Linked DNA regions of Homo sapiens: region 2 is linked to region 1. The links come from fine-mapping of genetic effects on gene expression. A gene starts in region 1. The other region holds a variant in brackets. All regions are shown on one strand. Distances are between the middles of the regions.

What was found. PIP is the estimated chance that this variant, and not a neighbour inherited with it, causes the effect. A credible set is the group of variants that fine-mapping cannot tell apart.
Region 2: its variant is the best candidate, but not a certain one, in a credible set for the expression of ANXA13 in tibial nerve (GTEx, PIP 0.67).

Annotation. Positions count from the first base shown.
Region 1 is chr8:123,735,229-123,739,625 of GRCh38, forward strand. ANXA13 (annexin A13) reads right to left here and starts at 2,165. Exons shown (of 11, transcript NM_004306.4): 1 at 2,092-2,165. The coding sequence starts at 2,106. The region is part of intron 1 of LOC105375739 (a long non-coding RNA gene); the gene reads left to right.
Region 2 is chr8:123,679,528-123,683,924 of GRCh38, forward strand. ANXA13 (annexin A13) reads right to left here. Exons shown (of 11, transcript NM_004306.4): 11 at 1,267-1,832. The coding sequence ends at 1,713. Among named protein-coding and RNA genes, the nearest start is that of KLHL38, 28 kb to the left of the region's middle. The variant G/A (reference allele first, on the strand shown) is at 1,874.

The DNA of each region.
Region 1 (4,397 bases):
CATTTAAACAGCATTGACTTATAACATTATCATTTAATTTATATATTTGTTTTGGTTGTGTAGCTGTTTCAAAACCACCAGCATTCTAGTTTTGTTTGTACATATTCAAGTAACTTTCTAATGCAAATAAGTTAAGCCATTACTGGGATAGTTTTTTGTTCTTTAAAAAGATTTTGTATTTACTTTTTTACATGTATTCATTCTTTGTGCACATGTTGAGTTCCTTTACTATTTTCTGAAATGTCATAGTGGTCCTGGTGTAGCCTCATGTGCTTGATTTCAAGGAGTTGTTAATGAGACACTGTTGGGAACAGAAACTAAGCCCCTAGAAGAGTTCATTTTTACATTACCTGTAAATACAGTAACAAACTTTTTGCAGGGAAAGATTTCCCTGCTTGGAAGTCACACCTGATGATGGCTGGTGGCTGGTGGAGGGTCCAACATGACAGATCACTGGGGGCTCATATTGGCCCCATGACAGAGCAGGGGTCATACCTATGATTTGGGGGGAAAATAAAGTGCTTACAGGCTGTGGGGCCTCTGGCTCTCCATTCCGTGATGGGTGGCTGAGAGGCTGCACGACTGTCGAGGGTTGGGAGTCCCCTTTAGGCAACTGTTGACTGCCTTCTGAGAGGGTGTACGACTGGCTCTGAGGATTAAAAAAAAATACATAAAAATGCTGGTCCACTCCTAAAGGCCAGCTGCTCCCTAGGTTGACTTTCAAAAGACAAAATTATCCTCCTAAGCTGTGAATGCAGGGTCCATTGATTATTCCTGGGGTCCTCTGCATCTATCAGAAATATTTGAAAAATAGGCTTCAGTTTCTCTGAAAGATACACTGAACGGATGGCTCATAATCTCTGCTGGTATGAAAATGCTATTTGTAGATGATTTGAAAAACAATGCCTTTCCTAAGAATATATTTGTAAGTTTGTAAACATCTGAGTGCAGCTTGAATATATAGCGAAGGAAAAACCTTATAGACAAAGTAACAGTTTACAGAAAGTTTTGGAGTTTTATTCTCTGCTCATAGTGTGCATGAAATATATCATTCTTGCTGTGGAAATTTACAGCAGGTACACAAAACCTTATTAAGATTTGTATTGGAATAGCTTTAGATATACTTCAATGTAAAAAATATTCAAGATTCAACTCTGATCTGTCCTGTGTGTAGTTGGTTCCAAAAGGTAGTGTTTTAGTCAGTTTTTAGTCATTAACTATTTATAGACACACTATTCAGGAGCCTAAACATTTCAAAAGAAATGTAAATTATTAAGTCCATTCCATGGATATTTGCAAATATGTGGATGTTTAGAAATAATAATGGAATATTTTCACCTTGCAATCCAAGTTGTGTGGACTTACATGAGTATTTACCTTGGTCTATTAATATTTGCAACATGAACCTATCTTTCCCACATAACTCTGAATGGGCTTAGTTTATGAAGTTTTATACAAATTTGCTACAAACTAACAGCTTTAGTTATACATTCTACAGATACATATTAACCATTTGCTCTCTGCAAGGCACTATTTACTGCCTTATTTTACATACTTCTTTCTCTTTAGCCCCTCTTAAGAGATTTTTGGCCAATAAGGGAATAATATATCCCCAGTGCTTTTTTTTTTTTTTTTTTGGGACGGAGTTTCACTCTTGTAGTCCAGGCTGGAGTGCAGTGGTGCAATCTCGGCTTATTGCAACCTCCGCCTCCCAGGTTCAAATGATTCTCCTGCCTCAGCCTCCTGAGTAGCTGGGACTACAGGCATGTTCCACCACACCTAGCTAACTTTTTTTTTTTTTTTAATTTTTTTAGTAGAGACAGTGTTTCACCATGTTGGCCAGGCTGACCTCAAACTCCTGACCTCAAGTAATCCGCCCACTCTGGCCTTGCAAAGTGCTGGGAGTACAGGTGTGAGCCACCGCACCCGGCCTCAATGCATTTTAAAAGCATGGTATGCTGTTGCTAAAACCAATATTAAAGGGTAACCATAGTGATAAAGTATACAAGTATCAGTCATGATTTTATAGTTTAAATTCTTCCACATGCTAACCAAAATTAAAACCAATTCCCAAAGGCAATGAGTACTTACATGACGATTGCCCATTTTCCTTTTTCTGAGATGGTTTTTCTGTATTTCATCAAGAGATCAGTCCTCCTACAGGCAAAGTTTACAACAGTTTTCCCCCCGGACATAATATCTCTTGTGTTTAATAAGTAACTTTTGGCACTGAATTTGAATACATTGTTGGGGATGGGTAGGGAGTGGCTCTAGCTACAGATAAACTTAGACTGCCCAGGTTTCCTTGGTACCCATGTTTTTAAAATAATATACTTCTTAATAAATAAAGTTTAGGCTTTTAAAGTTGAATAGCTTCTTCCCACCTAAAAGACTAAACCTGCCTCACTTCTGAATTGTTGAGTTATTCTTTCATATTCTGGTGTTCATTTAAAATATTATGCCTTTTAGTAATGAAAGCATTAACCAAATAGAAAAATATTACTATTTTTTACTAACATTGTTATTATTATTACAGAGAATTTTTCGAAGGCTACATTGCATTACACTAGATCATTTAAAAAATTTTACTGAGTTTTGAATTTAAAAAGTAATATGTGCAGATGGTAAATTTGTTTCTAATAATACATAAAGGTCCTGTGAAAAGTCGGCCTACTGACTTCCTTTTTCCTTCCCCCAGAGGTTTTCCGTGAGTCCTTCCTGAAGTGGTCCATGCATATTCAGCTATGTCCGTCGGTCTGCCTGTCTAGTTACCTACCTCTCTGTTTATCTTGATCCAACTTGTCTTTTCTTCCTCACCAAATGGGTTTGTACAATGTATTCTGTTCCATGCCTTGCATATTTCTTGTCTTTCCTTTTTTTTTCTGAGATTATTACAACATGTTTCTTTTTTTATTTGTACAAACTTATGTGGTACATAAGACATTTTGTTACATGCATATAATGAGTAGTGATCAAGTCAGGGTATTGAGAGTGTTTGCCTGAGTACAATAGATTTCTGTTGAGTACAGCCACCGTACTCTACTATCCAACACTGAATTTATTCCTTCCATCTTAGTGTGTGTTTGTACCCTTTAACCCACTTCTCCTCTTCCCCCGCAACTCACCCTTTCCAGTCTCTTTTCTCCATCTATCCACTCTCTACCTTCATGTGATCAATTTTTTAGCTCCCACATTTAAGGGAGAACATGTGATATTTGTTATAAGGGAGAACATGTGATATTTGTCTTTTTGTGCCTTGCTTATTTCACTTAATATAGTGTATATTTCATATACTAAAGAGATATTTGACACTGGCACATTTCTTTTTCAGTGGCCATGTAGTCAACTGTTATGGATATGAACCAAACCTTATTTCATCAGTCTACCGTTGAAGGTCATTTAGATTGTTTTTGATCTTTTGCATGAATATCTCATACACATCTTTGTTGTGCTTTCTTATCTGTAGAATAAAATCTTAGAATAGAGTTGCTGGCTAAAGACTATGTGCACTGAAAATTCTGATAGCTGTTGCCAAGTTGTCCTCCACACTGACATAAAATGCTGGACCACTCTTAAAGACCAGCTGATCCATGAGGCTTACTTTAAAAAAATGAAAATTTCACTCCCACTATATGAATATACCAGTGTGATTTTCCCTACATATTGGCTAACACTAAATATTGTCAAACTTTGTCATTTCTGCCAACTTCAAAGATAAAAACATGGTGTTTTATTAAATTTACATTTCTTTCATTTGATATCCTGGAAATTGTATATCCCATTTCTTTAAAGCCATTTGTGTATTTTTTTCTGTGGTTTGCTTGTTTGTGGTCTTTATTTTTCTTTTGAGTTATTAGTATTTTCATTATTTGTTTGTAAAACACTTTATTTATAATAAAATCTAGGCCTTCATGAAGTGTAACAATTATTTTTCCCCAGTTTGTTATCTTTTGTCTTTGTTTGTTTTGAGGGTATATATGTGAAGAAAGTATTAGCTCTGATGTATTCAAATATATCAGTCTTTTATTTTTGACTTGCTTAGAAAAACCATTTCTGCATTAAGATGCTTAAATCTTCTTGCATAAGTGTTCCTCCAAGTTCTTTTAATGGCTTAATTTTCAAAGGCTTATATCTTTGATTCATCTGGAATTGATTTTGACATACATTAAGGAAGGAAGGGTGTGTTAGGCTGTTCTTTCATGGCTATAAAGAAAGAACCGGAGGCTGGGTAATTTATAAGGAAAAGTGGTTTTATTTTGGCATATGGTTCTGCAGGCTGTATAGGAAGCATGGTGCTTCCTTTCTGGAGGGCCTCAGGGAGCTTACAATTATGGAGGAAAGTGATGGAGAACCAGTATGTCTCATGGCAAGAGCAGGAGCAAGAGAGGAAGTGCAGA
Region 2 (4,397 bases), 56 kb before region 1:
AATTACCCAGTCTCAGGTAGTTCTTTACTGCAGTGTGAAAATGAACAGTGTGAAAATGAACAAATATACTGCTCTTATTAATGCACTTACAGCATTCTATTGAATAAAAGAGACATTATTGACCTGGGAATGAACTGCCCCAAGGGGAGTCAGTGTTCTACTTGTCTTTGTATCCTCAGAGCACACCACAGTGATTGGCAGATAGTAGGGAACTAAGCAGATGAATGAATACAGACCCATTCCCATGTACTTCAACTGATTTTTCCAATTAAGGCAGTTAGTAGCATGATTCCTGGTGTCAGCCAGCCCTGGATTGAAATGCTAGTTGACATGGTTTGGCTCTATGTCACCACCCAAATCTCATCACAAATTGTAATCCTCATGTGTCAATTGTAATCCCCAGGAAAGACCTGGTGGGAGTGATTAGATCATGGGGTCTGTGTCCCCCATGCTGTTCTCGTCACAGTGAGGGAGTTCTCATGAGATCTGATGGTTTTATAAGGGGCTCTTTCCGCTTCGCTCACCACTCTTTCTTTCCTGCTGCCACATAAGACGTGCCTCCTCCCCTTCCACCATGATTGTAAGTTTCCTGAGGCCTCCCCAGCCCTGCGGAACTGTGAGTCACTTAAACCTCTTTTCTTTATAAATTACCCAGTCTTGGTAATTTTTTACCGGTAATTATAGCAGTGTGAAAACAGCACTTGTAAATGAATTTAGATAGGTTACTTAATGTGTCAGTTTCCTCAACTGATAATTGGGAGTAATATTAACCACATAGAGCTGTGGGGAGGATTAAGAATGAAATTGGACTACTCAGTGTCAGGCACAAATAATCAGCCAATGAATGACAACTATGATTATTGGGCCAAAGTGTCCAGGTTCTCTTGACAGATCCCTCTATGTCTAGCAACACGTGGCTATGAGACTAAAGTTTTGGAACACAGAATCTATTGGTGTGGAACCAATTCACTTCAGAGGTAGACCATTGATCTTGATCTTGTTGGCACTTTGCTCAGCTTAATTGTATTTGAAGATCAGAGGGAAGACTCAAGTGGGTCAAATGTCTAGAGAAGAAAACCCAGTTAAACCAGGTAGCAGATTAGGGAATTTTACCCTTAGTTACAGTTTACAAAAGCAAGTGAATTGTTTCCTTATGACTAGCCTTGATTAGTGACCACTAAAAAATGTAGGTTTGAATTTCACAAGTCATACATTTCCCAGAGAAGAGCCCAAACTTATCAAGACAATCTTTGGAAAAGCAGCTGATAGAGGCATAATCCACAACTTTAATTAACAATGAGGCTTTCAAATTGAACACACAGAAGGAAAATTAATAAATTGTTTAATTTTGTCTTTCCTGTACCTTACTTGTGTGATGCATATCCTTCTAAATGTGCCATTACAAATGCATAGTTTTTTCATCAACTGCTGATTTCATTAGTGTTTAGAAAACATCCAGTTACCATGCTAAAAGAAAGTGAAGAGGCAGCCTAGATGCTTGCTAAGCCAGAGTTCAAGGTGCCCTGCCCACGCATCTTAACGTTACTGCCCTTAACTTACACAGCTTGGCCTGGCTGCGCCACTTAAGCTGCCAAGAAAGTAATCCGGGACTCTTAAGGGTTTTCGTGCGGGAGTCTCATTTGCAAGTTTGATTTGGAATGTGCTCTTGACAAAGGCGGTTCCACCCTGTGTTCCTATTGCCCTGGCTTGGCTCAGTGCAAGAGGGCTACTAGCAGTTTCCGGAAGTCCCCGGAGGTATCTGAGCGAACCATGTCAGAGAGAGACTTCTGATACTTCTCTTGGAACTTTGCTTTGATCCCCTGAAGGTCCACCTGTAGAAAAAATAACAGCAATGGAGATAAGAACGTTTATG[G/A]TGTGTTCACAAACAGTGGGCACTGTTCTACACATGTTATACTCATTTGCTCATTCATGCCTTAAAACAGCCCTTGAGATAGGGCTTTATTTCCTATCATTATTTCCTTTATCACGTTATTTCAATTTTGTGATCAGGAAAGGGAAGGCAGAGGTCAATTCCCCAAAGGTTGCAGAGGTGTCCACGTGTGTGTGTGTTCCACTAAAACTCTTGAATTTCTTTTTTTTTTTTTTTTTTTTTGAGACAGAGCTTTGCTCTTGTTGCCGAGGCTGGAGTGCAATGGTGCAGTCTCGGCTCACTGCAATCTCCGCCTCCTGGGTTCAAGCAATTGTCCTGCCTCAGCCCCCCAAGTAGCTGGGATTACAGTCAACCACCATGCCTGGCTAATTTTTTTCTGTATTTTTAGTAGAGACGGGGGTTTCATCATGTTGGCCAGACTGGTCTCGAACTCGTGACCTCAGGTGATCCACCCACCTCAGCTCCCGAAGTGCTGGGATTACAGGCGTGAGCCACCGTGCCTGGCCCTAAAACTCTTGAATTTCATACAGTTTTTACATGTTACAAAGTATTATCTTTCTTTTGAGTTTTAACAGTTATTTGAAAATGAATTGCCCTAAGCTAGCAGGACTGTACACAACCTGGCAGTGAGCCTGAATTGGCCTGCAGGCTGTAGTTGGTTGACCCCTGGTATAAAACTAAGAAAATTGTCAACACAGAGATGTGGAATTAAGCAATTAAGCAGTTTTTCCCTCATACCATGATTAGCAAGGATATTAGTACCAGTCAACACAACTCAAATCACTAGCAACTTGTAGGATTTATTTTGAATCTAATTTATTGGAAGCTTGAAAAACCCAGGTGCTAGAAGTGATGATAGGACTCAGGAGAAAAATAAATCCAAAGATTGCTCTGCCAGAAGATTCTTACAGCCTAGCAAAGGAGACGATACTTGTACCAGAAAAGATGTAATTCCAGGTAGAACATAATGGATCTCATAAAAGAAGCAGAGAACTCTTTTTAACCAGGAGTCTTTCTTTTCTTTTCTTTTTTGGCTTAGACCCTACCTTGTACTCCAGACCCAAAAAGTGTGGCTCAGGGATCTGATTCTTTCTTCTCTTGCCCCAGTGAGAGGGCTGAGCTGAGACAGTGAGAGAAATGATCAGGATGGGAGTATGTGGGGGAGTGAGGGAGGGTTTGCAGTGGATGTGGAGCAGGTGGCAGACACTACAGGAGACAGGTGGTGTCTGTCTCTCCCCCAGCCTGTGTGTCCCCCTGCTCCGCTGCTTGGCTCCTTGCCCCGTGCTGGGACACGGGCAGGAAGGTGGAGGGTGGGTAGGGATGGGGTGCACAGGGCTCTGTTCTGTGGCTTTGGGAGATTAGGAAATCTGGCCAAACTACTATATCTAGCCAGGCCTGAAGCCTTCTGAGGTAACTGCCCACATGTTGAGATGGCCCAGGACGTGTGGTTGATTCTGAGATGGGACAGAGCTTCTTGGAATAAAACACTCCGTGGGCCATGTCGGAGTGATCACGGAACCCTCACAAGCCCTTCGGATGGATCCAGTCTCTCTGGGGGTCATTTGGAATCCTGGGTCTTCATTGTGTTCAACCTGTCCCTTTTGAGTCCCTCAAGATCTCTCATCTCTCAGTGACTTTGGCTGGAGGTCGAGTTGCTAACAGACAGAGGGACGGACAAGGCAGAAGACCTGGAGAGAAAGGAGGGAGAGGGATTTGGAGCCATGGAGGAGAGAGGCAGAGGCATGGCAGGAGCAGAGCAGAGAGACTGGCAAAGGGAAAGAGGGGAGAGAGAGAGACATGGCCTTCAATAGAAAAAGATGAGTTGTGGAGGAGGAGAAAGGAGGGGAGGAGAAATTCCAGGAATAGAAATAAAAAAGCAAGAACCATCTTGTTGCAAAGTTATATTTAAAAACAGTGTCAGATGTTAAGCATTATTTGTTAAGAAGCCATGGATCAGAATTTGGGTTGGTGTCCCTCCCCCTTCACCTCCCCCTTCATTTAACCACTTTTTTTTTTTTTTTTTGAGGGAAGATGTCTGTGGTTTTCAAGTGCTTAGTTCCACTTCATTCCCCAAGGCTTCTCCTGCTGCCGATGAAATGCCACTTCCCCTTTATTTTGTACCACCTTCTGTCTGTGGCCCCATATCCCGAACTGTTAGCTGTGACCTTTTTTTTTTTTTTTTTTTTGAGACCGAGTCTCGCTCTGTTACTCAGACTGGAGTGTAGTGGCACCATCTTGGCTCACTGCAACCTCCACCTTCTGGGTTCAAGCAATTCTCATGCCTCAGCCTCCTGAGTAGCTGGGACTACAAGTGTGTGCCACCATGCCCAGCTAATTTTTGTATTTTTAGTAGTGACGGGGTTTCACCATGTTGGCCAGGCCGGTCTCGAACTCCTGACCTCAGGCGATCCACCCACCTCGGCCTCCCAAAGTGCTGGGATTACAGGCATGAGCCATTGCACCCGACCAGCTGTGATCTTGACGGCTGCTCCCAAGCCGTTGGCTC